Linked DNA regions of Homo sapiens: region 1 is linked to region 2. Evidence: fine-mapped expression QTL. A gene starts in region 2. The other region holds a variant in brackets. All regions are shown on one strand. Distances are from middle to middle.

Region 1 (16,050 bases), 23 kb before region 2:
TGCACTTATCAACCCGTCATCTAGGTTTTAAGCCCTGTATGCATTAGCTATTTGTCCTAATGCTCTCCCTCCCCTTACCCCCACCCCCCAAAATAATTTTAAAAATAAAGTCAGACCAGGATATATTGCCTTGCTCCACAAAAATAAATATGTTTCTAAAAAGTTTACTCAAGCCTGTTTCTAGAAAGTGAAGCATAACTTCCAACTGGCTTTCATTAAAACGTCTAAGATGTATTCATGTACTGACTCCATTCAAGGAGTGGCAGTACTGGTGTTGGTCTGAGCACTAGGAGCCTGCTGGGGTGAACCCACCCACTCTCTGAGTCTGGGCTTGATGATGGAAAGAGAAAAGGAGAGGTGAATTGAGTCTCCTTGAAAGACATGAGAAATTAGAGCCGGGCACGGTGGCTCACGCTTGTAATCCCAGCACTTTGGGAGGCCAAGGCGGGAGGATCACCTGAGGTCAGGAGTTCGAGACCAGCCTGGCCAACATGGTGAGACCCCCGTCTCTACAAAAATAAAAAAATTAGCTGGGCGTGGTGGCATGCGCCTGTAATTCCAGCTACTTGGGAGTCTGAGGTGGAAGAATCACTTGAACCTGGGAGGCAGAGGTTGCAGTGAGCCGAGACTGTGCCATTGCACTCCAGCCTGGGCGACAGAGCGAGACTCGATCTCAAAAAAAAAAAAAAAAAAAAATCAGAGAAATTAGAGCCCAGCAGAGAACACAGGAAGAGAAGTCAACACTGCCTGATCGCCTCTGCATCTGGGAGCTTGCTGGGCACTGTGCATGCTGGTACAACAGAAGCAGACAAAGAATTCTTCTGAGAGGCAAGAGAGGAAATCAAAATTGGAAAACAGAACCATATACTAATAATCCACTCATTTGCTGAGCACTTTACCATTTTCTTTTCTTTCTTTCTTTCTTTTTTTCTTTTCTTTTCTTTTTCTTTTTTTTTTTTTTTTTAATTTTTGAGATGGAGTCTTGCTCTGTCGCCCAGGCTGGAGTGCAGTGGCATGAACTTGGCTCACTGCAAACTCTGCCTCCCCAGTTCAAGTGATTCTCCTGCCTCAGACTTCTAAATAGCTGGGATTACAGGCATGCACCAGCCTGGCTAATTTTTGTATATTTAGTAGAGAAGGGGTTTCGCCATGTTAGCCGGGCTGGTCTCAAATTTCTGGCCTCAAGTGATCTGCCTGCCTCAGCCTCCCAAAGTGCTGAGATTACAGGCATGAGCCACCGCGTCCAGCCCACTTTCCCATTTTCAATATCCTTTTACGCCTGTTACATAATTTGACTTTGAAATGACCCTATGAATGGATGGGGTGCATGTTCATCGTCCCACCTTGTGAATGAGGAAGGAAGCTGAGACCTAGACAGCAAAGTCACAGGAGGTGACAGAGCCTGTATTCAAACCCATGTTTTACAATTCTAAGTCTGATGTGCTCACTGCTGCTTTCCAGAGAGGTCTCGGATCATCTAGACTGAGCTCTGGCTTCCCTATTTACCAGCTGTGTGATTTTGGGCAAGTTGCTGAACCTCTCTGTGCCTCTCTGTTCTCATTCTGTACAATGGAGCTGGTATAAGGATTACATGAGCCAATAAAAAGAAAGCACATGGTAAGTGCTCATCAAAAATTAACTTTTGTTTTTATTCCTAGAAAAAAAGAAAGTGAGACATGATAATGGCAAAGATGAGAAATCTGAGAATCATAGAGAGAAGAGGGTGAGAAGAACAGTTCAGAGGTGGAAATGGCTCTAGCATGTCAGTGCTCAGCTCCCCCAGGCAGTAAGAACAGGAATACGGTGGCCAGGCAGAGGCCAGGGCAGGCCAGCAGTACCAGTAGGAAGATGCCCTCACCCCTACCTTGGCCTTCAACCTGAAGAAGCTCAGTGTTTCCCTAGGCCCAAATCTAGCTGGCAGCAAGCCCAGGACAGAGAGTGAGGACAGGAGTGGGGAAAAGAGATGGATAAGGCATCTTGGCCACCCTCGAGGGGCTTGTGGTCTGGTTGTAAGATCGAGACAGGGCTATGTGAGCTAAGATGGCTTCCCTCAGTCTCCCCAGAATGCCAGGCTCCCTGTCCAGTGAGGTGCTGGTAAAAATGGAACAACTAGCTCTTTGTTGGGGGATGACAGGTCAGAGGGGCTGACATGCCAATTTTCATGTTTGCCAATTTCCATGGTGGAAATACTCTCATTGTGGCCATCTTCAAAAAGAAGCAGGTCCTGGTATCAAGCCATGAGGGCGGGACAGGCAGTAAGGTGAGGACAAAGGTGTGGGGTCACTGTCAGAGGTTGGAGACCTGCGTCCCGGTCCCTGAGAGAGTGCACAGGAATGCTACGTGCCTTGGACACATCATTTTACCTCTTTGACCTCCAGTCACCTCAAGGAAGAAAATGAAAATGTACTGTGTTGGAGGGTGGGCAGAGCTGGCGTGAATCCAGGCCAGAGGGTATTTTTCAAGCACTTGCTACATGCTAAGCCCTGGGATACAGAGACGAATAACAGAGCGTCATGCTGGGGAAGTGGAAAGATGTGAAAGTCCCATGACCTCATGGACATAGTGGTGGCGATGATTAGTAAGTACGAGGTGATGGCCTTGTCGTGTCTGAGTCACACAATTCATTCTGTCAGTCCCCAGATCTTTTGTTTTGTTTTGTTTGAGACAGAGTCTCACTCTGTCACTGAGGCTGGAGTGCAGTGGTGCCATCTCGGCTCACTGCAACCTCCGCCTCCCAGGTTCAAGCGATTCTCCTGCCTCAGCCTCCCAAGTAGCTGGTACTACAGGCGTGTGCCACCATGTCCAGCTAATTTTTGTATTTTCTGGTAGTGACAGGGTTTCACCATGTTGCCCAGGATGGTCTCAAACTCCTGATCTCATGTGATCTGCCCGCCTCAGCCTCCCAAAGTGCTGGGATTACAGTTGTGAGCCACCACTCCCAGCCAGTCCCCAGATTTTTATTGAGGACTGGCTGTGGGCCAGGCACTGGGAAACAGCAGTGAACAAAAGACCAACTCTCTGCCCTCCAAAAATGGAGACAGGACACTAATCTAAGAAACATAAAATAGAAGCCGGGTGCGGTGGCTCACGCCTGTAATCCCAGCACTTCGGGAGGCCGAGGCGTGTGGATTACGAGGTCAGGAGATCGAGACCACGGTGAAACCCTGTCTCTACTAAAAATACAAAAAAATTAGCCCAGCGCAGTGGCGGGCGCCTGTAGTCTCAGCTACTCAGGAGGCTGAGGCAGGAGAATGGCATGGACCCGGGAGGCGGAGCTTGCCACTCGCACCACTGCACTCCAGCCTGGGTGACAGAGCGAGACTCCGTCTAAAGAAAAAAAAAAAGAAAGAAAGAAACAAAATAGATAAAACGATTTGTATTATGTGAAGCAGAGTCAGGGGCAGAGTTGCCAGGAGCACTACGTGAGGCAGGTGGACAAGGAAGCCTGTCCGAGGGCCAATGAGGCAGAGACTGGAGAGAAGTGAGGGAGTGCATCGGGCGGATTTCTGGAGGAACAGCATCCAGGCTGAACGAGCAGCAGGTGCAAGAGTCCTGAGGTGGAAGTGTGCTGAGGGAGGGAGGTGAGATGGGGCAAGGGAAGGGGGAACTCTGAGAAGCAGCCAGGGGTCATCCCAAAGGGCCTGGTGGAGCACACGGAGGGAGGCATTAGATGGGCTTCTAACCCCATGCTACTGGAGGGCTGGGAGCTGAAAACTAGCTCAGCTTTCAGATTTGAAAGAATCTGTGTGAAGATGCCAGAGGACAAGTGTGGGAGCAGGAAGGGCAGGTGGGAAGCTCTAGCAATCACCCCCAGAGATATCACAGTGGCCGGGCCAAGTGACAGCATGTGAGGGGTATGAGGTGTGAGGACGGGCTCTGTTCGCAGTATATCCTGAAGGTAGAAGCAACCAGGCTTGCGGCCAGAACAAATGGTCCCAGGAAAGCAGAAACGTCCATGAAGAGCATAGCTAGTAACAACTCCCAGCCAGCGAGCTCCGTCTGTGGGCTAGGAGCTTTCCCTGAATTATCTCACTTGGTTTTCACACCAAATCCTACAAAGAGGCACTGCTTGTCAAGTTACAATGAATACATGGAGGCTCAAGAGGTTGGGTGATATCCCCAAGACCCTATGTCAAGCCTTCAACAGAACTGGAATTTGAGCTTTTCAGGCTATCAAGGGGGTGCCCTTTGCATGATATCAGCTGCCCCTGAGATTTGGAAAGTAGTAGCATATTACCTTGCCAGGCGTGGTGGCTCACACCTGTAATCCCAGCACTTTGGGAGGCCAAGGCAGGTGGGTCACCTGAGGTCAGGAGTTTGAGACCAGCCTGGCCAACATGGTGAAACCCCGTCTCTACTAAAAATACAAAATTAGCTGGGCGTGGTGGTGCATACCTGTAATGTCAGCTACTTGGGAGGCTGAGGCAGGAGAATCGCTTGAACCTGGGAGGCAGAGGTTGCAGTGAGCGGAGATCGTGCCACTGCACTTCAGTCTGGACAACAAGAGCAAAACTCCATCTCAAAAAAAAAAAAAAAAGAAAAGAAAAAGTAGTATAAGTAGTATACTACCTGGCACGTATTAGGTACACATAGTAGGTAATAATCATTTGCAAAATACCTACTTTTTTTTCATTTTGAGACAGGGTCTCAGTCTGTCACCCATGCTGGAGTGCAGTGGTACAATCATAGCTCATTACAGACTCAAACTCCTGGGCTCAAGCGATCCTCCTGCCTTGACCTCCCAAAGTGCTGGGATTACAGATGTGAGCCTGTATGCATTTCTTTGTATCATAAACATTTAAAAGGTCATGAGCCCTATACATTCACCAGAATGTCTAAAATTATTAATTTTAAAAAAACAAACTTCAAACCTGACTATACCAAATGCATGAGCAGGGGAAATGTCATACATTGCTGGTAGGAATGCAGAATGGTACAACCAATATGGAAAACAGCTTGGTAGTTTCTGATAAAGTTAGACACTTACTCAGTGACCCAATTTTAGGTATTTACCTAAGAGAAAAGAAAACGTGCTCACACAAACACTGAACATGAACGTTTATAGTTCATAGGAGTATTATTCATAATTGCCCCAAACTGGAAATAACCCAAGTATACTTAACCTGGTAAACAGATGAACAACTGTGGTATGCCCATGCAATGGAATACTACTCAGCAATGAAAAAGGAATGAACTACTGACATGGAGAACAAAATGGATGAATCTCAAATATATAATGCTGAGTAAAGGAAGCCAGGCTTAAAAAGCTATGGTTCCATTTAAATGACATCTGGAAAAGGCAAAATTATCAGTCAGAAACAGATCAATGGTTACCAGAGGCAAGGAGTAGGGGTGTGGGTTGACTACAAAGGGTGGCATGGGGACACTTATAGGGGGATTGTGGTGGTAGCTGTATGACTGTACTCTTCTGCCAAAACTTAGAAAATATACTAATAAGGGTGGATTTTACAGTCTGTAAATTACACCTCAGTAAACCTAACAATGACAGCACAAAGGTTGTGTGCCCTCGCTTCCCTCTCCTGACGGCTACCTCATTTTGCTCCACAGTGAAGCCACTCTCCATACTCCCACTCAGATTAAACCCCTGGAAAAGCTTAGGTATCAGTGCTGCAGAATCGACTCTGCTGTCACCGAGCCAGCTGCCTTCAGCATCATTGGCGAGTTTTAAAATGCTGATGCAGGCCAGGTGCAGTGGCTCATGCCTGTAATCCCAGTACTTTGGGAGGCTGAGATGGGTGGATCACCGGAGTTCAGGAGTTTGAGACCAGCCTGGCCAATATGGTGAAACCCCGTCTCTACTAAAAATACAAAAATTAGCCGGGCATGGTGGCGCACGCCTGTAATCCCAGCTACTTGGAAGGTTGAGGTAGGAGAATCACTTGAACCTGGGAGGCAGAGGTTGCAGTGAGCCAAGATGGCGTCACTGCACTCCAGCCTGGGTGACAGAGTGACAGACTCCATCTCAAAAATAAAAATAAAAATAAAAAATAAATAAAATGCTGATGCTGTCCGGGCATGGTGGCTCATGCCTATAATGCCAACACTTTAGGAGGCCAAGGCAGGAGGATTGCTTGAGCTCAGGAGTTTGAGGTCAGTCTGGGCAATATAGTGAGACCCCATCTCTACAAAAATTTTAAAAATTAGCTGGATGTGGTGGCGTGCACCTGTGCTTCTAGATACTCAGGAGGCTGAGGAAGGAGGATAGCTTAAACCCAGAAGGTCAAGGTTCCAGTGGGCTCTGATCACACCACTGCACTCCAGCCTGGATGACAGAGCAAAACCCTGTCTCAAATAAACAAACAAACACCCTACAGGAGGGAAGTGGCCTCAGGTTGGAGGCAGGCAAAGCTGCTGGGCCTGTGATGGGACAAAAACCTGTGACTCATCCATGCTTCCTCCTTTCAGGGCAGAGCCCAGCAATGGCTGGACCTGCTGAGAGCAGCTGAGGGTGTTCTGGCCACTGCTGGGGCCACTGCATGTGGCCTGCTGACCACTGCCACCCCCTGGTGGTCTCTTATGAAAAAGCATCCTCACCCACCAGCGAGGTGGGGATGAGGGGACAGGGATGCTCCTCCCGTCACCCTTCCTCCCACCATTCACCTTTCTCTCTTGTCTTCCCAGCTTCTTCACTCTCTTTCCCTCTCTTTTGCTTCTCCTCACTCTCCTCCCCTCTCTGCTTGTCTTATTGTTCTGCTCCATGATAGAAAGAGCTTTGACCTTAGTTCACCGGGTTAAAACCTGGCTCTGGCATCTACGAGCTACATGACCAATTGAGCCAATTACTAAACCTCTCTGAGTCGGTGTCTTCATCTGGAAATGGGGATAACTCTGGATGGTAAAATGACATAATCCACATAAAACACCTTGCACAGAGCCTGGTCCAATAGATGTTTATTATTATTATTACTACTATCATGACTGGCACTTGACAGGGGCTCAACCATTGGTTGTGGTAGTTTGCTCTCTTTATTCTTCATCCCAGGTAACCCAGGCTATATATTAGACTCCAGTGGGTACTCTTAAAAAATATGCATGCGCCAGGTATGGTGGCTCACGCCTGTAATCCCAGCACTTTGGGAGGTGGAGGTGGGAGCATCGCTTGAGGCTGGGAGTTTGAGACCAGCCTGAGTAACATGGTGAAATCCCATCTCTACAAAAAATAAAAAAATTAGCTTGGCACAGTGGCACACACCTATAATCCCAGCTACTTGGGAGGCTGAGGCGGGAGGATCACTGGAGCCCGGGAGAGCGAGGCTGTAGTGAGCCATGTTTGTGCACTCCAGCCTGGGAAACAGAGTAAGACTCTGTCTCAAAAAAAAAAAAAAAAAGACCCCATGCCTCCCCCAACTCAGCCCATTTAAATCGGTGGTGGTACTTCAGTACAGGCATTGTTTTTTACATTTTTAAAATTAATTTACTATGTGTTTTTCACCAGTACTCTTTAAAAGCTCCCCAGGAGATACAAATGAAAAACCATACTATGGTGACCACCAGTCCGGGGTTACCTGGGGCTTTCCCAGTTTTAGCACTGGAAGTCCCATGGCCCAGGAGCCCCCTCCCCGCAAGGCAAACTGAGACACTTGGTTGTCCCCTTTCTAGAAAGGAATGGACCCATATTTTCTAATCCCAGATCGGGACACGTGGCCTGGGCGCAGATGGCTGAATCAATTCTCTGAAAGCACCACTTGGGGCAGTGGGTCACTGAGGCCACAGGGTCAGTCTGTGGCAGGAGCTGGGTTCAGGGTGGGGAGAGGTGGGCAGGAGAGCGGCTGGCAGTGGCTCAGTCGGACAGGTCCCCATCGTTGGGCCAGCTGGGGCTCCAGCCACTGGCCGCCCGCTCCATGGCCTTCACCCAGCGGCCCTTCAGCTCCTCCGTCTCGGCCTTGAAGGTGTAGAGCTGGCCTGACTGCTGTAGCTGGAAGACCCGAGGGTCCCCCTGGGGCCCAACAGTCACCTGGTAGCCCAGCAGGGGGATGGAGGTGTGAGCCCTCATGTCCTGGGGGGAGGAGAGAGCAGTGGGCCACTGTCCCCTCTCAGTCCTACTGCCCCAGATAGCCATCGTGAAGGCAACAGCCACGCACGCACAGCTCACACCCTAAACCCCCATGGGTTGGGGGTGGGCTGGTGAAGGCCATCGAGGAAGAGGACAGAAGAACTGGCTGCCTCTGAGGGCAAAGCAGTGGT[G/C]ACCTAGAGTCAGGGCACAATTCTGAAACCTACCAACCTTGAGACTCCAGGATACCATATCCTCATTGGGCCTCAGTTTCCCTATCTGACATATGGAGCTAGCAATACTCACCCCTGACCCCCTTCACACACACGCTGTGGGAAGGCCAGGGCCTGACGGGGGGCGGGCAGGTGGTGGCCTTACCTGAGGGGCAGCATAGACATAGAGCACGAGGGGGTCATCCCGAGGGATCACACACCAGCCCCGGGGGCCGCTCTTGCCCCACTTGTCCCCGATGAGCTGCAGGAAGCTGCACATCAGGCTCTGGTCAGGCGTGGCTGAGGACCCTTTCTAAAACCAGAAGGAGGGACTGTCAGGGAGCAGAGCAGCCGCAAGTGCCAGATGTTGGTCTGGGGGCTTGACAATCACTATCTCCAATCCTTACAGCAGTACTGAATGGAGGGGTCCTTGGTCCTTGAGGCTCAGAGAGGTCCCATCAAGTGCCTGTGGTCACACAGCTAGCTGGCCAGTGGCAGAGCTGCAGTCAAACCCCAGCCTGCCTGAACCTGTCGCGTGTGTGCCCACAAGGGGCAGGTGCCGGGAGGGTGCCTGGAGCTGCTCCAGGAAACAGAATTGGGCCCTGAGAAGGGGCTGAGCATCTCCAGGGGCAGGCTGTGTTGCCTAGTGGTCAGGGGGTCCTGGGCCTGGAAGGATGGGGAGGATTGGAAACGGGGTGGATGCCCGTGGAAAAAGGCCAACTTTTTTTTTTTTTTCAGATAGTTTCTCTCTTGTTGCTCAGGCTGGAGTGCAATGGTGCAATCTCAACACATTGCAACCTCCACCTCCCGGGTTCAAGAGATTCTCCTGCCTCAGCATCCCGAGTAGCTGGGATTACAGGCATGCACCACCATGCCCGGCTGATTTTTTTTTTTTTGTATTTTTAGTAGAGACGGGACTTCACCATGTGGGCCAGGCTGGTCTCGAACTCCTGACCGCACGTGATCCATCCACCTTGGCCTCCCAAAGTGCTGGGATTACAGGCATGAGCCTTCCCGCCTGGCCAAAAGAGGCCAACTTGAACCTGGGAGTGAATCTCAGCTGGCACAGGCTGGGACCTTCTCCCACCTCCCAGGGACGGTGGGATGTCAACCTGGCCTTCGTGAGGGAGGGGCAGTGGACAGTGGTATTGATGCTGAGCTGGTTGACATTGTATTTGTGCTGCCTAGCTGAGCACAGTTGTACCCCCACAGGGGAGCACCTGTGGGGGCAAGTGTGGCTCAGTGAGGCCCCCAGGGCAACAGAAAGAACATCTGTGACTGAGATCAGAGAGCTGGCTCCTAACTTGCTGTGTGATCTTGGGCAAGTCACTCCTCCAGCCCTGGGTCTCCATGGGATAAGACCGACTGGCCCCTGGAGTCCCTTCCAGTTAGAATGGAGTCTCCAATCTGTCTGACCTGGAGCGTCAGTGTTCCCATCTGTAAAATGGAAGCGGTGACACCAGCTCTTGGCACCCTGGGACTGTCGGGGCAGGACATGGGGACGTGAACATGAGCTGTCCAGAGGGGCCGTACTATCGGATGGGGACATAGAGGAAGTGCAGAAGAATGTGGACGACAGCCTGCAGCCAAAGGGTGCCTCCATTTGGTGACAGGCTCCACACTGCCTGGGCTGTGGCGAGAGGCCTGGGGTCTGTGGGCAGAGAGAGGAAGAGGGAGAGGGGGGAGGGTGTGACCATGGCTGGCTTGTTCCTCAGCACTGGACAGTGTCAGCCCAGCATGGTTGCCGGGCACACATTCCCTGAACAGAGGACGGATGGTGAGCGCGGGGACAGTGGCCCTCACCTCCAGGATGCCCCGCCTCTTGTCCTCCTTGGCCTCAGGCAGCACATTTCCAGTGAGGAATGCGTAGCAGTGGAGGCAGACTCGGTTGGGCCTGTTGTCGTCGTATTTCAGTTCGGCCCGGTAGTCGGAGCACCTGGCACACACCACCTGAGGAGGACACATAAGGGGGCATGGGGCTGAGACCAGGCACCGGAGGGCTGGGCTCCTGCCTTGGTGGGCAGGTGGGGGCATGAGAGCAACCAGGGACTGGGGGAGGAAAAGAAAGCTTCGAGGGAGGAATAGAGGCAGAGCGGGGATGCTCCCCCATGCTGGTGAGGCCCAACTGCCTGGAGGCTGCGACACATGGGGGAGCTCGGGCTCGGGGCTCTTAGGCTGAGGGTTCAAGACCCGGCCCCCACCGCGAGGGCCGTAACTTCTCTCCCCTCCAGGTTCCCTCCGAGTGAGGGCTGCTGTGAACCCAAGGGGCTTGCCCCAGACGGGCCACTGGCATCTGATTCACTTTTCCAAATGCTGTCCTCTCCGCCATCTCACCTGACTCTCCCAAAGACCCCACCAGGCAAGCAGGGCCCAGCTTTTGTCCTCTCCTGACCCTGAGAGCCACACTGTTACCTGGCAGACAGGCCCTCCACACACAGGGTGTGTCTTTCAAGTCCCACAGTTTAGCTTTAAGATTCAGGCAGACTTTGTATTCTGCGCCATCATGGAGTCAAGTGTGTTTTCACCTAAAAATGATAGGCTGGTTGTTTTTACATGGGTACTCTGTGGAGCGGGGCCCACTCTCAGCTCACCACGAAGACACCCCCCAAAGGCTGACATGGATCATGCCGGGAGGCTGGGTAAAAGGGGCCTGGGAAGACTCAGAGAGGAACACTGGGTGCCGCAAGGTGTGACTGCGAGGAAGACTTGGCTTTATGGGGAGCCCAGATGTGGGCGTGGAGATGGAGGGCAGGAGAAAGGGGCAGAGGGAGTGTAGTTCATCAGGCGGCACCAGCCTTCAGGGAGCTCCTCTGTGTGCCCAGCACAGAGTGTGGCCTGGCAGGGACCTGGAGAAGAAGGCCTGGCCCTGCCCCACCCTCACAAGGATTCCCGTCTGGCAGGCAGGGGAGACAGAAACTGGCACCCGAACCACCGAAAGGATGACTCACTGGCTCAGCAGGCACGAAGATCTGCACAGGCAAGAGAAACCCACGGTCAGGGCACAGCCCCACACGGGGGCTTCAGCTACCTCAGGAGCATTTTTTTTTTATTGAGCGATTTCAATGTTTAAATATAATTAGTAAATATTTTTTCCTCTACCAACGTTTAATTTTGAAAAATTTCCTACCGACAGACAAATTGAACAAATAATACAATGATACCACCCACTAGATTCACTAATTATTAACATTTGTGCCACATTTGCTCTCTGTCTCTCTCTATATGTATGTATTTTATTTTTTTCTGAACCATTTGAGGATAAATTACAGTCATCATGACACCTCACCCTTAAATATGTAGCTGGTGGTCTCCTAAGAACAAGGGCATCCTTCTACCTATCCACGGTGTCACAGTCACGCTCAGGAAATTTATTGATACAATATTATTATTTTTATTTTTTTGAGATGGAGTTTTGCTTTTGTTGCCTGGGCTGGAGTACAGTGGGGTGATCTGGGCTCACTGCAACCTCCACCTCCTGGGTTCAAGCGATTCTCCCTCCTCAGCCTCCCGAGTAGCTGGGATTACAGGTGTACACCACCACACCCGGCTAATTTTGTATTTTTAGTAGAGACAGGGTTTCACCATGTTGGCCAGGCTGTTCTCGAACTCCTGGCCTCAGGTGATCCGCTCACCTCGGCCTCCCAAAGTGCTGGGATTACAGGTGTGAGGCACTGCACCCAGCCAATACAATATTATTATCTAGATATGTTGCATCATCAAATTTCTCCCAATGGTCCCAAGAGCAACCTTGATAGCTTTATTTTACCCCAGAAAGAATCCAAGCAAGGATCATACATTTAATTTAGTTGTCAGAATATTTTCTATCTTAAGCTGGAAGGCAGCTACACAGGTGTTGTTATTCTTTGTGCCTCTTTGTATTTCACTATTTTAAGTAATTTTTAAAGAACTACTTTCACTCACAAGTGTGAATCAATTCAACTCTTATTTACAGAAGTGAATCACCAGGAACAGTAGCCAATCCCCACATCCTTTCTACCTGGCTTCGGGATGTAACTCATCACTGACATCTGAAGGCAGGTGTGTTCCCAGGTCCTAGAAACTGACTCTGTCCTGATTGCAGTTGAACACATTTTGGGGACACCTCCCTGACTGGCCCCAACCTGTCCAGCTAGACTCCTCCTGTCCTCTGGAGGTCATCAAAGACTGAGGTTGCAAAGGGCTTCTCTGTTTGCAGAGTAAACAGAGGGGGTTGTGATGTCAACAGAGAACAGCTCAAGTACAGGAGTGCTTAAAAAGCAAAGCGAGATCTACCTCTGGTAACTGGGCCTGGATTGATAAGAGGAGAAACTGTAGTGGACACAGTACCCTCCTCAAGAAGCTGGTAGCTCACCCGCACTGGATGCCCTGCCTGAGTTATGGAGGAGGGGGAAAGAAAAAGAGGAGAGGGAAGGGAAAGAATGTTTTTTGGTGGAATCCTCACTGCCACACTGGAGGTAGGTTTCACGATCCCCATGGCGGAGTTAAGGAGACTGAGGCCTGAACCAGTAGGCAGAGTTAACAACAGAATCCATCAGGTGCCAGGGTGCTGAGGGCTTGCAGAGAAGAGAGGACAGTTAGCCGAAGCGGGTAAAGAGAGGATGACGGGGTGGGTGAGTGCATAGTGGGCATGGGCCTGGTGAGGTGGTGGGGCAAGGCCTGAGGGGGTGCGGGGCTAGATGCCCCTCCACTAGAACTGGGGACCATTTCCTAGCTCTGGGTCTCAGGGTCGTGGAAAATGATGATAAGAATGCAGGTAAATTCATAGGATCAGCTTCAGGGGTACCTTCAGCAAGTAATTTAACCTCAATGGGTCTCATTTTCCCATCTAAAAAATGGGAAACAGCAGCCTCCTGAGGTGTGCTGTGAGGGCCAGATGAGGTAGTAATACACACACCTGGCTCAGAGCTAGTGCCCAACACCACTGGGCTGCATTGGTTGAAGCCAGCAGATTTGGCCAAGATGGGGACAGCAGCACCTGAGCTGGGTGGGTAGAGGCCCAGGTAGGGCAGGTAGAGGCCTAAGTGGGACAGGTAGAGGCCTGGGTGACACTGGTGGAAGCCAAGGTGGGGCAGGTGGAGGCCGAGGTGGGACAGGTAGAGGCCAAGGTGGGGCAGGTGGAGGCCTAGGTGGATCAAGTGGAAGCCTAGGTGGATCAAGTGGAAGCCTAGGTAGGAAAGATAGAGGCCTGGGTGACACAGGTGGAGGCCTCGGAGGGACAGGTGGAGGTGACACAGATGGAGGCCGAGGTGGGGCAGGTGGAGGCCTAGGTGGATCAAGCGGAGGCCTAGGTAGGAAAGGTGGAGGCCTGGGTGATGCAGGTGGAGGCCTGGGTGACGCAGGTGGAGGCAGGAGTGCTGGCAGGAGTACTCACATAGCCGCAGGCCCGGCAGTGGTGGCGACGGCGCGTCAGAGCGTTGAAGGGCTCCTGGCAGCGCATGCACATGGTCACCATCTTGTCCCGGACCCACTGCGGTGCCCGGAGGCCCAGCTCCTCAGACTGCAGCTGTGGGTTAAGGGGAGTTGGGCAGGAATGGGCCCTTGGTGACCTTCTTCCGCCCATCCTCCCAGGGCCTGGGGCCCTGTGCCCACCTGCTGTAGCAGGGATTCTTTGTGTTGGGCTTCCCTGGGGCTTCTACAGCAAGCTGACTGACCTGATCGAGACCTTATGATACGTTAGTTACCATTATTCCTATTGTATAAGTGAGGAAACTGAGGCCCAGAGAGGTCAAATGACTCAGCAGTCACTCAGCAAGCCAGAGTTCAGCTCAAATCTGAACTCAAACCACAGATATCCTCCCCAGCCCCCACCTCACTCACCTTCCATCTTCCCTGAGACTTTGTATTTCTCAGATACTTTCAAACCCAAAACCCTACTGCCCCCTGCAGCTGGAGCTGCAGAGACGTGAAACACTTCCCCAAGACAGCTGTGCAGACAGGCTCTCAAAGGAAGTTTTGCTAAAGGGGAATGCTCAGGCCCTGAGTCGGGGGATGCGCTGGGAAGGCTTCCCCTGGTCCCTTCAGTCTCTCCTGGCAGATGACACTCCCTCTCCCTCTGAGCTGGTATAGGCAGAACAGAGAGGGAACAAGCTCTATTTGGGTTGGTGGCTCCAGCAAGGGATGAAAAAGCCTTCATTTACCTCCTGCTCCTGGATGTCTCCCTCAGGCCCCTGGGCCGCAGCCTTGAAGGTTTCATTCCGCTTCTCGATTTGGTCAATGGCTGCTTGGAAGGCCTGGGGTGCAGGGAGGGGGAGGGTCGGGGCTTGAGGTGTGGAAGGGAGGGATTGCTCCTCTGTCCATCCTTCCGTGCATGCAACAGACAGGGCTGAAAGCCCACTGGGTACCAGGCGCTGGATTCTACACACACGCGGGCTGCCTTATCGGAGGAGAAACTACCAGCCCCAGGTTACAGATGTAAAAACTGAGGCTCAGAGAGGGTAAGTGACTGGCCCTGGACTGCCCAGCTAGGCAATGAGAAGCAGCAAGATAGGAACCCAGATCGGTCTCCAAACTACCACAGAGCAGCTCCTTAGGAAGAGCAGGGAGCAGCTGAGCACACGCAGGTGTGGGAGCATGCACACACACACACGCACGCACACACAAACACAGACACACAAAGACACATACACACAAGCACGTACATACACATGCATACAAACACACACATACACACAAACACATGCACACATGCATGCACACAAACACACATATACACATACACACATACATGTACACACGCACACACATGCATGCACACATACACACAAACACACACACAAACACACAGACACAGACATGCACACACAGATGCACACACATGCATACACACATGCACACACACACACACACACACACATGCATACATACACCACTCCCTCCCCTTCAGCCCAAATAGGCTAGGGAGAATCCCAGGAGCTTCATCAAGGTAGTCTAGTACCAAGAAAGAAAAAAAGAAAAAAGAAAGAAAGGAAAAAGACTCCCAGAAGCCTCGGAGCGTTCCCATACCTGCATCCAGGAAATCATTTCCTCCTGGGACCTGCTCGGAAAGTGAACACAGGTGTTGAGGAGATCAGCCCCTCCCAGTTTTCCCGCCTGGCCCTGGGCCGCCACCCCAGCTCCTTTACCGGGCTTGCAGCTCCAGGGTGCGCTGCTTCCCGGACACCAGGAAGGAGTGGGGAAACTCAGCATCCATCAGCTCCCGCACCTGCCAAGAGGAGGGAGGCAACCAGTTCAGACTCATCATAGCCCGGGTCCCAGGCACAGCACTGTGGAGGGGAGGGAGGTGGATTGTGCCCAAGGGACAATTCAAATTCGAGAGACAGGGATGCAGAGCTTGTTCGCCACCTCTCTAATCCTGTTGAGCCAAGCAAATGCCCCTGCAACTGGGCCTCGCTCCAAGCAAATGGAACCTATGGCTCCTGGAATTTTAGCAGCAGCTAAGTTGACCCAGTGTGACGTGGAGATGACAATTTTTGACAATGGATTCAACAAAAAAGGAAATTAGATTTCAAAACTGGATGAGTATATGAGGTTCATTATACCGTTTTCTTGGCTTTAAAATTTTCATAATAAAACATTAAAGAAAATAACCTTGGCTGGGTGCAGTGGCTCACGCCTGTAATCCCAGCATTTTGGGAGGTCAAGGCGGGTAGATCACTAGAGGCCAGGAGTTTGAGAACAGCCTGGGCAATATGGTGAAACCCATCTCTTCTAAAAGTACAAAAATTAGCTGGACATGGTGGCGCATGCCTGTCATCCCAACTACTCGGGAGGCTGAGGCACAATAATCTCTTGAACCTAGGAGGTGGAGGTTGCAGTGAGCTGAGATTG
Region 2 (11,536 bases):
CAGAGACCTCCCCAGAAACCAAACCTGCTGGCACCTTGAACTTGGCCTTCCAGCCTCCAGCACTGTGAGAAAATAAATGTCTGGTGTTGAAGTCTGGGGCATTTTGTTACGGCAGCCCAAGCAGAATCACACAGACCCCCGAGTGAGGCCAGTAGAAAAACCTCCCGGCAGCATCCCAGTCAACTCACAAAATGTGAGAAACAATAAACAGTTACATTCAGCCCCTACATTTTTTTTTTTTTTTTTTGAGACAGAGTCTCGCTCTGTCACCCAGGCTAGAGTGGAGTGGCGCAATCTCGGCTCACTGCAACCTCCTCCTCCTGGATTCAAGTGATTCTCCTGTCTCAGCCTACTGAGTAGCTGGGATTACAGGCGCCCACCACCATGCCCAACTAATTTTTGTATTTTTAGTTGAGACAGTGTTTCCCTATGTTGGCCAGGCTGGTCTTGAACTCCTGACCTCAGGTGATCTGCCCACCTCGGCCTCCCAAAGTGCTGGGATTACAGGCGTGAGTTACTGCACCCGGCCAGCCGCTACATTTTTGATAGGTTTGTTCAGCAGCGATTGAAAACCAGGACGCATTACTATAACCACTATCCCCATTTTACAAATGAGGAAACTGGCACAAAGAGACTCAAGTGACTTGCCCAAGGACACACAGTTAGTAAGCAGACGTGCTGGGATGTGACTCCAGGGAATTTGGGTGCACAGTATCTGCATGCCAACCCTTGAACTCTGCAGATGAGAAAACTGCAAGCCACAGAAGAGATCAGACTGGGCTTTAGTCTAAGGGCAGGACAGTTCACACTCAGACCTCTATTTCTAGGTTGAGATTGTTGTCTCCTCCAGTGGGTAAACTGAGGCCCCACCTGAGAAGAGTATTAGGTTCACAAGATGGAGACTGTTCCAAGCTGTGTGGCCTTGAATAAGTTCCTTAAAACTGTGTTTCAACTTCCTTGTCCAAAAAACTCCTACACGAGGGACTCGCGAAGTAATCCAGCACGGTGCGTAGCAGGCAGTTAGTGAATCAAAGGCCATTAAGCATGGGGAAATCTAGCTCCCAGCTGACCTCTGATCACACCATACCCCCACCTGGGGAACTGCTGGCTCTGGCTAGGAAAGCATGTGTGGAGGGGAGGTCAGGGAGAGCTCCCCACCCCAGCACCCCACACCTCTACCTCAGCCCTCAGGCACCTGCGTCCCCGATCCTGAGAGGGTCACAGGCTGGCAAGATTTCCTCCAGGCTTCGCTGGACAGCTTGTTCTTCAGGGAGTTCAGGTACCTCCTGCTGACTGTCCTGGGCTCAGACCCCACGGCCTCCCCGACATTCGTCTTCTCCCGTGGTCCTGGGGACTCGGGAGGCCTGCACTCAGGGCGGTGATGCACGTCCTCTAGCCTCTGGCCTCTGGGTGCTGCTTCTGGGGTCCTGAGGAGAAGAGACAGACCTGAGGGCTTCCTCCCTGGAGAACAGGGAAAACAGCAGCAAGTCCCTGGTGTGGATTTGGGTTGCCTGGTGCAAATCCCCAGTGCAGGGGCCCCTGGGTGCCTGGCTTTCTTTGGGAACATGCTGAGTAAGACTTTCACTTCTCTCCCAACACATTCTTGGAGGGAACTCAGTGTTCAAAATGAGTCAGGGTGGACTATATTTTATTTTCTGGGGAACTGCATACTTCCTTGTTTAAAATGAAGCCACAGTGTCCAGGAATCCTTTCTGTATATAGGGGTTTTTGAGTGGTACCCCCTGGATTATCCTCACCTTTGGACCTCACCTCTGTTTTCAGTTTCCACATCAGTAACCTATACATCAAGGGAAGGTAGGAGCCACAGAACAATATAAAGTGAGAGCAGGCCTGCAAAAGCTGGGGCTTCTCAATGGGATCGACATCCTCCACACGTCCAGAAGCAGGGAGAGCCAGCCCAGCAGCAGATGCTCTGTTCTCCCAGGGACGGGCCTTCGTAGGTCACCTTTATTACCCTGTGTACTGGGTTCTGCAAGCCAGTCAAATTCCTTAGACAACAGGGCCCACCCTTGATGAATACACCCAACGTTGCCCTTGGTGTGGAAGGGCTTGTGATGACAGAACAGGGCAGGCATCCTTATGAGAAAGACAGGCCAGGAAATGGAAGGCCAAACAAATACGAAATCTCCAAAACTCCGTGAGAAAGGTTTTCATTACCCATATTTTGCACTCAAGGAAACTGAGGTCTGGACAGGATGAGTAACATGCGGCTCGGAAGTGGCAGAGGTGGGATTCAAATCAGGCGACTGCTTCCTGAGCCTTCACTCTAACCTGCCCCTCCCCATTTGAGTAAAGGAGAAACAGGTCCGCGGAGTCAAAGTGACTTGCCCCAAGTGACACAATTGGGTTTGTGGCAGCGAAAGCATTGGGACCTAGTGCTGTGTGGCTACTCCCAGGCTCTCCCACCCCTCCCTGGCACCCCAGTCCCTGGTTTCTCAGCCCATGGGTCTGCAGCTCATGGGCGTAGCTGGTTCTCAGGCTTTCTGTTCTACATTTGGTTTCAGGTTCTGCATTTCTGTTCTAGGGCCCCTGGCCAGCTTCTGTTTCCTCTTTGCCCCTCAGTTTCAGATCAGCTGAGGTGCTGGAGACCTCATAAGGAAGCCCAGGCCAAGGCAGTTGGTATGGGTCCCCTCACTCAGTAAGGAGTGGCTCTCACCCTCTTGATGCCTGCTGGGACCTAACTCCCGTCTAAGGGCTGCCCACTCCTGCCAGGGTTATTGCCTGGGCAGAGCACAGCATGCTGAGGGGCTCCACCCAGGTGTGCCTAGTCCACGTCAAGCATGTTGAGTGAGGTGGTACCATCCACCCACACCCAAGGGGGTGGTGGGCCAGGAAGGCGGCACCCAAGAGCTGTCTTTGGTGCTGAACAGGACGAGCTTGGCAAAGATCCCGGGAGAGGCAGGGGAGAATCACCCAGCTCAGGAAGTTGAAGACTTCTAGGTCTACATCTATGCCATCTCCACCCTGAAGCCTACAGGAAACATTGCCTGCCATGAGTGCCCTCAATACAGCATCCGGGCCATTCCTAGGACATCTACTGTCTATGACCTTGCATCATAGTTATTCGATGAGCTCAGCATCCAAATACTGAAACCCTTCTTCATCCTCTACAGTTCCTGTAGGATGCTGTGCTGTGCCACCCATGTCCCTCCTTCAGGAATGAGGCCTCCCCACACCATCCCCACCAGCTACTGGTAGTACTGGGGGCTGCCGGGTAATTTATTGGCTGAGTCCCTCTCTGGGAATCACTCTCTGGAAGAGAGAGCTGCCTCACCCAGAGTCTCTTGTCCAGTCCACATGGAGATACAAATACCCAGCCCTCTTCCTCAGCTGGAACAACCGAGAGGCATCCCAGCTCCAGAGCTCCCTGGGACAGGCTGAGGCCTCTGTGGCAGGTGCACTGCAGTTCAGCATCTCCCCCTGCCCGGCCCTGCTTCCCTCACACCCACAGCTGTTGTTCCCAAAAGCTCTCCCTGATAAATCACCTGAGGCAAACCTCTGTCTGAGTCTATTTCCAGAAAACCCTACCTGGGACAGCCCCTAACACAGTCCTGAGCTTAAGAAATGCCTGCAGAATGGATTGATGCCACACATAACACACAACACACACATACACACACGCGCACACACACAAACACACATGCTCCCAGGGCTACCAATGACTCCACGCATCTGGCCCAGCCTTTTCCCTCCAGACAGACGCCCCAGCATTGCCCCAGATACTTAAAGCACTTGGCATCCTCACCTCTCTGTGTCTCCATTTCCTCATCTATAAGACGGGAACAGAAACAGAATCTACCCCTATTAGGCTGTTCGATGACTAAATTAAATAAGTAAGGACATGAACTTAGAGTAGGGAGTACCCCATCAGGATGCTGCCCGTACATCCTGGTTTGCCTCATACGGTCCCAGCTTTACCTGTAATGCCTCCCCCACAACCACCACATTTTATTTGGCATTTACTTTCAGTTTCAATTGTGTGCTGAATGATAAATTATATGGTTATCCTAATCATAGGGCGTAAATTCTTGGTGAGTATCAGCTACCTTTTCTGAGAGGTGCTGGCAGGCACTGGGTGGGGTCCTGTGCCCACACACAGGCTTTGGTCTGCCCATGCTTGCTCGTAACCACACCTGTCTGGACTCTCCCAACACACACTGGCACTCTCACCCCTGCCTGGCTCCTGGTGTCCCACCGACACTCTCCCATGCTCCAAGGAATCCGTGACCGAGGAACGCGGGGCTGCCCCTGCAGGAGGAGGGTCCGGGGCAGGGCCCAGGGAGAGAGCTGCCAGAAAGGCTGGAGGGTGGCTGCCAGCCCACCATGGTGACCCTCCCACCCCAGCTGCCCATACCTGCTATTCTCAAACACAGTGACCAGGTTGGACACAGATGCCAGCTTCTCCTCACTTGCCCCCTTCATCCTGCCGGTTTCCGGGGTGGATCTCAGCTACCCTCGAAGCAGAGAGAGAGGCCTCCAGCCAGCACACTCAGCCACGCTGGCCTGGGACAGATAGGCTAAATCACCCATGAATCTGTTCTGATCTTTCTTGAGGGCTCAGAAGGTCGGCTCTTGGCTTCAGAGTGAAGAAAGAGGAAGTGGTCCCAGAGCCACAGCCCTGCAGGGGAAAGGCCAGCACTCCCGCAGTGGGAGGAGCCTGCTCGGGCCCCACCTCTCCCTCAGGGGGGCTGACCTTTCACACCTGTAGACCCCCATTCCAGAAGCCACCTAAGAGGTGGCAACAGGGCCCAGAGGTAGCTTCTGGAGCCCAGTCTGGGCTGGTGCAGTGGTTTGCACCTCTAATTCCAGTGCTTTGGGAGGCCGAAGCAGGAGGATTGCTTGAGCCCAGGAGTTCAAGACCAACCTGGGCAACATAGTGAGACACCGTCTCTTAAAAAAAAAAAAAAAAAAAAAGGCCACCCGGAGCCAGACCCTTGGCTGGTTTCTTGGCCTAGTGGTTCCAGCCAACCACACTTTCTCCTTCAGAAGGTCCAGTGGCTTTTACTTGGCCTCTTTCCCAGCACCTTCTTTTCTGCATCTGCCCCTGCTCACAGCTGTAAGGAAATAATGTCTTTTTTATTCTTTAGAGACAGAGTGCGGTGGTGGGATCTCGGCTCACTGCACCCTCTGCCTCCCGGTTCAAGCGATTCTCCTGCCTCAGCCTCCTGAGTAGCCGGGATTACAGGGCCTGCCACCACGCCCTGCTAATTATTTGTATTTTTAGTAGAGATGGGGTTTCACCATGTTGCTCAGGCTGGTCTTGAACTCCTGGCCTCAGGTGATCCTCCTGCCTCGGCCTCCCAAAATTCTGGGATTACAGATGTGAGCCACTGTGCCTGGCCAGGAAACAGCATGTTTTATTTAAAATAATCACAAACCTGGTAAGGGTGGCAGGGAGTACTGTGATGTTCCCACCTCCCCACTGGGGTTCTCTCATTTTAGTTGTTGCTGTCATCACCTCATTGCCCCAAGGGAGGGCAGTTTCCTCCCTGAAACTCAGAGGATAATAATAGCTAACATGCACTCTTTTTCATGCTTATGAGTATTTTCTTATTAATCCTATAACAACCTCATGAGGTAGGTACTATTCCTATCCCCACTTTACATAGGAAGAAACAGAATCAGAGAGGTTAAGTAACTTGCCCAAGGTCACCCAGGAAGAATACAAGAGAAGTTGGATTTCCAAAGCAAAAGTGGGTGTCCTACAGTTCCAGCAAAGGTTCGTTGGGAGCCTGGATGACCATGTTCTTGCTGCTCCATCCCCAGGCCTCCCTGATCCCAGGACACTGGGTTGTCTTTGCCTGAGGCCTCCTTTACCACCTGGTCTCCCGGCCCTTACAGAACAAATGGACGCTGCCTCTGTTCCCCTCCTTCAAGCCCCACAGGCCGTTCAGGGCCCTCCCACTGGGCTCTGGTCCCACCAGGGCTCTCCACTGAACCTGGTCTGTGTCCTGGAGTGCAGGGCCTGAGCCTCGGTGCTCTTGGTACGTGAAGTGCCTGGAACAGCTTCACGCTCCAGTAACTGTGAACCCCTGGGGCCTCACATGCCCAACAGCCGCCCTCACCCCAAGCCTCGTCTGAGTGGTTTCTCCCACCAGATGCCGGGCCCCCTGCCCCAAACCCTAAGTCTCACAAACCTCCATTTTTGTTTTTTACTTTTTATTATGGAGAATTTAGAACATATGCAAAACTAGACAGAATCATATAATGCATCCCATGAACCCCTAATCCAGACCATAACAAACCTCAGCTCACAGCCAGTCCCCTGTCCCTGCTGCAGCCACATCGACTCTGCCTTCTCATGTCATTTTGAAGAAAATCCCAGATGTCAGATGACATTACCCATAAACATTTTAGTGTGTATCTAGAAGATGAGAACTCTCTCTCTCTTTTTTTTTTTTTTTGAGACTGAGTCTTACTCTGTCACCCAGGCTGGAGTGCAGTGCTGCAATCTCGGATCACTGCAATCTTCACCCCACTGGGTTCAAGCGATTCTCCTGCCTCAGCCTCCTGAGTAGCTGGGACTACAGGTGTGTGCCACCACACCCAGCTAATTTTTGTATTTTTAGTAGAGACGGAGTTTCACCATGTTGGCCAGGCTGGTCTCGAACTCCCAACCTCAGATGATCCACCTGCCTCGGCCTCCCAAAGTAGTGGGATTACAGGCATGAGCCACCGCGCCCAGCCAAGAACCCTTTAAATAACTAAATATACACACACATAAATGTATATGCATATATACACATGTATAATAGTAATATTGTTTTATATAGACATACATGTTTTACATGTTATATCCATGTGTATATACATATGAAATAATATTACCGTTATCATACCCCAAGAGATATTTAGCAATAATTCCTCAATATAATTAAATATCCAGAAAACATTCCAAGTGCCAATTCCTTATAAATGTTAAATTAAAAAAAAAAATCAGAATCCAAATAAGGTCCACACATTCCCTGAGCTGTCACGTGGATGAATTCACTTTTCATCCACACGTTCCCCTGGTCCTTTCCGTTTTCCCACACAGCATAGTGGAGGGACCCTGGGTTGTTTGTCCTGTAGGTCCCACAGCCAGGACTTAGCCCATTGCAGCGCCATACCCTGGATTTCCTGTCGATGGTGGTTAGGTCTAGAGGCTCGATCAGAATCACCTTTAAATGCCACTTCTTCCCGATGCCCTCCCTGGCCTGGGGGCGCCTCCCTCCCTGGTGTTCCTCTCCTGGATTTCCTCCTCTGCCTCCCACCAGTCTCTCTGCTCACTGGCTGGCTTGCTCCCTCCACGCAGGGCACACCTGAGTACGTGCACTTCCTGGTGGGTCCCCAACCCCAGCGCCCTTCCCGCATACAGTGGGGCCTCAGAAGGCATGTGGAATGGACAGACATCACACCCCAAGCCTCAGAGGATTGTCTTACCCCTCAGCTGCCAGTGCTTTGAGCATCCAAGCCTGAACAATGGGACCTGCCCCTCCCATGGGGGCTGGAGGGTGGGTAGGTGGGCCTTCAAGAGGCCTCCAATACCCTAACCCTGAAGATGGCACAGGCACCATCAGAGCTGCTTCCCTCCAGGAAAAAGAGGCCAAGATGTCTACACCCCCAAAACAACCTTCCCTCATCATCCAAGGCTCTGCCTCCCCTGTCCCCTACCACTCTGACTTGGGCCCCTCACAGTCTGCCAGGCTTTCTGCCTGTACCTGCAGGCATCACCTGAGACTCAGCCTCGGCCTTCTGGTCTCCTGATTCACACACACCTCCCACCCAATTCAGAATTTATCCTGGAGGTCCCACTGGTACCTCTTCCTGCCCTTCTACCCAGTGGATATGTCCAACACCTTCAGGATATCACCAGGTAGATGCCTACCTTTGCTTCCAACTCAACACACAACTCTCTAAAGCCAGCACCATTATTGCACTGAAGTCATCTCAAACTCACTGGGGCAGCCATCAAGATCCTCCTGGTTGACACTCTCAGCTACTTCTTGCCTGCACACACCTAATCTGTGTTGGGATCCAAACCTGCCGGGTACTGTGGCTGAGCTAAGCTGAGCCACGCTGAGCCACAGCCCCAGAATCCCCTTCCCTGCATGGTCTGGACTACTGTTAGCCATGGATGCAGGAGGGGATATAGCAGCCCTGTTTTGTTCCTGGGTCAGTGCAGAGCTCCAGCCCTGTTGCAGATCATACATGTTGATGTGGGTCTGTTGCTTCTCCACTGATCTTCCTTTTCAGCTTGTCCAGCTCCTGGGCCAGGTGCATGCTTAGCTCCAGGACAAAGATAACCTGTGTCATCAAAGTTGATGGCTTGGAGGTGGCCACCTGTCCGTCCTCCAGAGTCCCAGCTCTTCCTGACTAGTTCAGTTCCTCTTTGCTCCCCCTACCTCCCTGCCGGCTTCTCCTCCCCACTGCCTGCCCTGCTTACTTTAGACTCAGAAGCATTAACTCTTTAAGAAGCTCCCACACTGTATAAGGTCAAATTCTGTATTCTGTATTGGATCCCTGCAGTTCTGGCTTGGGCATCCCTCCCTCACACTCTCTCCCTCCCACCTTCCCCCATCTGAGCTGCAGGGAACTGAGCTCTTCCATCTTCTGTATTGTGTCACTCCCGGTCCTTCTGCTTCTCTGTAGCACCTTGGACCAGTAACAGAACTTCACTTTCCTCTTCTGCCACATGGGGATAATTATACTGCCAACCTCCTGTGGTTGTTATGAAGATTAAATGGGATAATAATATATAGAAGAGGTTAGAGTAAGGCCTGGTACTGAGTAGGTACTCGGTGACTGTTGGCTACCAGCATTCTTACTTTTGAGAGAAGCCTTTGCTATAGCTCCGCTCTGCCTTGACCAATCAGTTCCCTTTGCCTAGAGCAGTGGTCCCCAACCTTTTTGGCACGAGGGACTGGTTTCTGGGGTTGCGGGGGGTGGGGAGATGATTTTGGGATGAAACTGTTCCACTCAGATCATCAGGAATTAGATTCTCATAAAGAGTGAGCAAACTAGATCCCTCACATGCACAGTTCACAATAGGATTCGCACTCTTATGAGAATCTAATGCCACTGCTGATGGGACATGAGGCAGAACTCAGGTGGTAATGCTCACCCGCCACTCACCTCCTGCAGTACGGCCCAGTTCCTAATAGGCTACGGGATCCCTGGCCTAGAGTGTCTTCAGTCTGTCTACAGCCGGTTCACTTCCTCCAGGAAGCCTTCCTTTATACCTACTGCTGGAAATTCATTTTCCTCCTCAGAGACCTGGTGTTCCTCTCTGTTTAATTTTGTCTTTTCCGCCCTATTCATTAAGTCACGCATTCAGTAGATAAGTGTTTCTTGAGCACCTACTATGTGTCAATACCATAGTAGAGGTTGTAGATAAAACACAGTCCCCAGCCCTTTAGCTCAAACTCTAATAAGGAAGATGGGCCTGTTAACCACTAAAATAGGATGTGATGAAAGCTTTGAACAAGGGAGTTATGAACATCCAAAGAAGGGTCATCAGAAGGCTTTGTGGCAGAGGTGACTTGAAGTATGAAAGATGAAGGATGGGCTGGGTGCGGTGGCTCAAACCTGTAATCCCAGCACTTTGGGAGGCTGAGGCGGGCGGATCACAAGGTTAGGAGTTTGAGACCAGCCTGGCCAATATGGTAAAACCCCGTCTCCATTAAATTAAAAAAAAAAAAAAGCAAGGTGTGGTGGCAGGTGCCTGTAGTCCCACATACTCAGGACGCTGAGGCAGGAGAATTGCTTGAACCTGTGAGGCGGAGGTTGCAGTGAGCCGAGATTGCACCACTGCACTCCAGCCTGGGTGACAGAGTCTCAAAAAAAAAAAAAAAGATGAAGGATGAAGGATGAGTTAACTCTGTGTGGACAAGACAGGAAGGGGCATTCAAAGCAGAAGGAACAGCATGTGCAAAGGGATATGGGCTTGAGAGACCATGGCTACCATGGCTAGACTGGGAAGAACACAGGGCCTCGCACACGTGGGTGTCCAGGGCCTGGGAAATGGTGGAACCCGCAGCTGAAGGGGTCCTGGAAGCCTGGCCTGCTAGGCTTTGTCTGCCAAACTGAGGTGCTTAGAAGGTTAGGGGAGTGAGTATAGCGTTTTCAGCAGAGTAACCCCTGATCCAGTCTACAGATCTCCCTCTGAGCAGGGGCAATGTCTCCATTTCAGGGCTCTTGGGGTCTTTGGCATGAATAAACCTCTTGTTTTTTTTCTCCTCTTCTCTGCTTTCAAGCCCAAGGGAAGATGGAAGAGCTCAGTTCCCTACAGCTCAGATGGGGGAAGGTGGGAGGGAGGGTGAGGGAGGGATGCCCAAGCAGAACTGCAGGGCCAGGTGGGGACTCGGCTGGCGAGGGATCTCTACCCTGGGGTGCATGCAGAGCGGCTTTGTGTGTAGACTGGAGGCGCCCAGAGGACCTCTTGGGGCAACTTTGGGAAAGCAGAAGGGGCATTTAGAGGCTGCCAGGGAGGAAGTGTCACAACTTAGGATCAGGATGCTATGAGTGTATATGTGTGTATTTGTGGGGTGTGTATGTGACATGTGTGTATCTGGTGTGTGTGTAGGTTGGCGTGTGTGCACGTGCATGTATGTATGTGTGCATTGTGTGTATGAACGGTGTGTGTGTAGCAAATCTGCAGGGGTTCACCAGGTGTAGCCTTTCCGGGGACAGTGAGGACTCCCCAAAGGAGCATTTATCTTCAGGGTGACAAGGACTGGAGGGGACAGGCTGGCATGTTCCCAGGCTCCCCCTTGCCAGCCATCCCACCTCCAGCCTCAGTCAAGCACACAGCACCTGCCAAGGGCTTAATGGCCCGTGACAGACAGGCCTGTGAGCTGGGATGATGCGGCTCTAGAGAGGATGCAGGCAGCCAGCTGAAACCTGTGCCAGAGGCTGCCGTGACCCTTGCCACCCCTCCCGGTCTCCGCCTCACCCCCTCCTCCTGCCCACCCCCACCCCCTGCTTTTGGAAGGCCCTAGTGAGGGCGCTGTCTGGGTAGTCACATGGTGGGCAGAGGCCACACTGCCGATGGGAGGGATGGGCGCCAAGGGCCTCCGATCCCTGGCTTGGAGGGAGGAAGCTGAACAAAGCTGGGCTCCCTTGGAGACTCGTCTCATCTGTCCCCTCCTCCAAGCAGCCAGAATTGTTCCACTCTGTCCCTCTGCCGGAAATTCCACCCTTTGCCGAGGCTTTCTTCTGGAAGGGTGCTGGCCCCTTCTGTGGAAGGCCCGCCGGCCTTCCCGCTTTCACCTTTTCCAGGAACCTCCCTATATTTTGCCTGCTATATGCCCCTGACCCTCTGTGGCCTGGGTGTTCCTAAATGTTACTGTCAACCTGAGGAGTGGAATTATTCCGAGTTGGTTCAGCCCTGTGAGGAATACCGGGAGGCAAAACCCACCTCTCTCAATACAGGCTCCTTGCGGCTCACTGCCCAGGAGGATCCGCTCTGAGAGCACAGCCCAGATAGCAAAGGGGTGTCAGGCCTGACGTGGGGGGCAGATGGGTGTCAGGCCTG

The links.
Region 1: its variant is fine-mapped to the expression of FGD2 in whole blood (TOPMed, PIP above 0.99).

Annotation. Positions count from the first base shown.
Region 1 is chr6:37,019,915-37,035,964 of GRCh38, reverse strand. FGD2 (FYVE, RhoGEF and PH domain containing 2) reads right to left here. Exons shown (of 16, transcript NM_173558.4): 10 at 15,345-15,424; 11 at 15,226-15,256; 12 at 14,361-14,453; 13 at 13,595-13,726; 14 at 10,027-10,173; 15 at 8,390-8,536; 16 at 6,896-8,017. The coding sequence ends at 7,802. Among named protein-coding and RNA genes, the nearest start is that of FGD2, 22 kb to the right of the region's middle. RefSeq lists enhancers at 6,243-6,322, 9,607-10,544, 10,256-11,455. The variant G/C (reference allele first, on the strand shown) is at 8,206.
Region 2 is chr6:36,998,725-37,010,260 of GRCh38, reverse strand. It overlaps FGD2 (FYVE, RhoGEF and PH domain containing 2), which reads right to left and starts at 4,606. Exons shown (of 16, transcript NM_173558.4): 1 at 4,376-4,606; 2 at 1,196-1,427. The coding sequence starts at 4,443. RefSeq lists enhancers at 2,471-2,640, 4,461-4,590, 11,391-11,536 and a silencer at 4,846-5,008.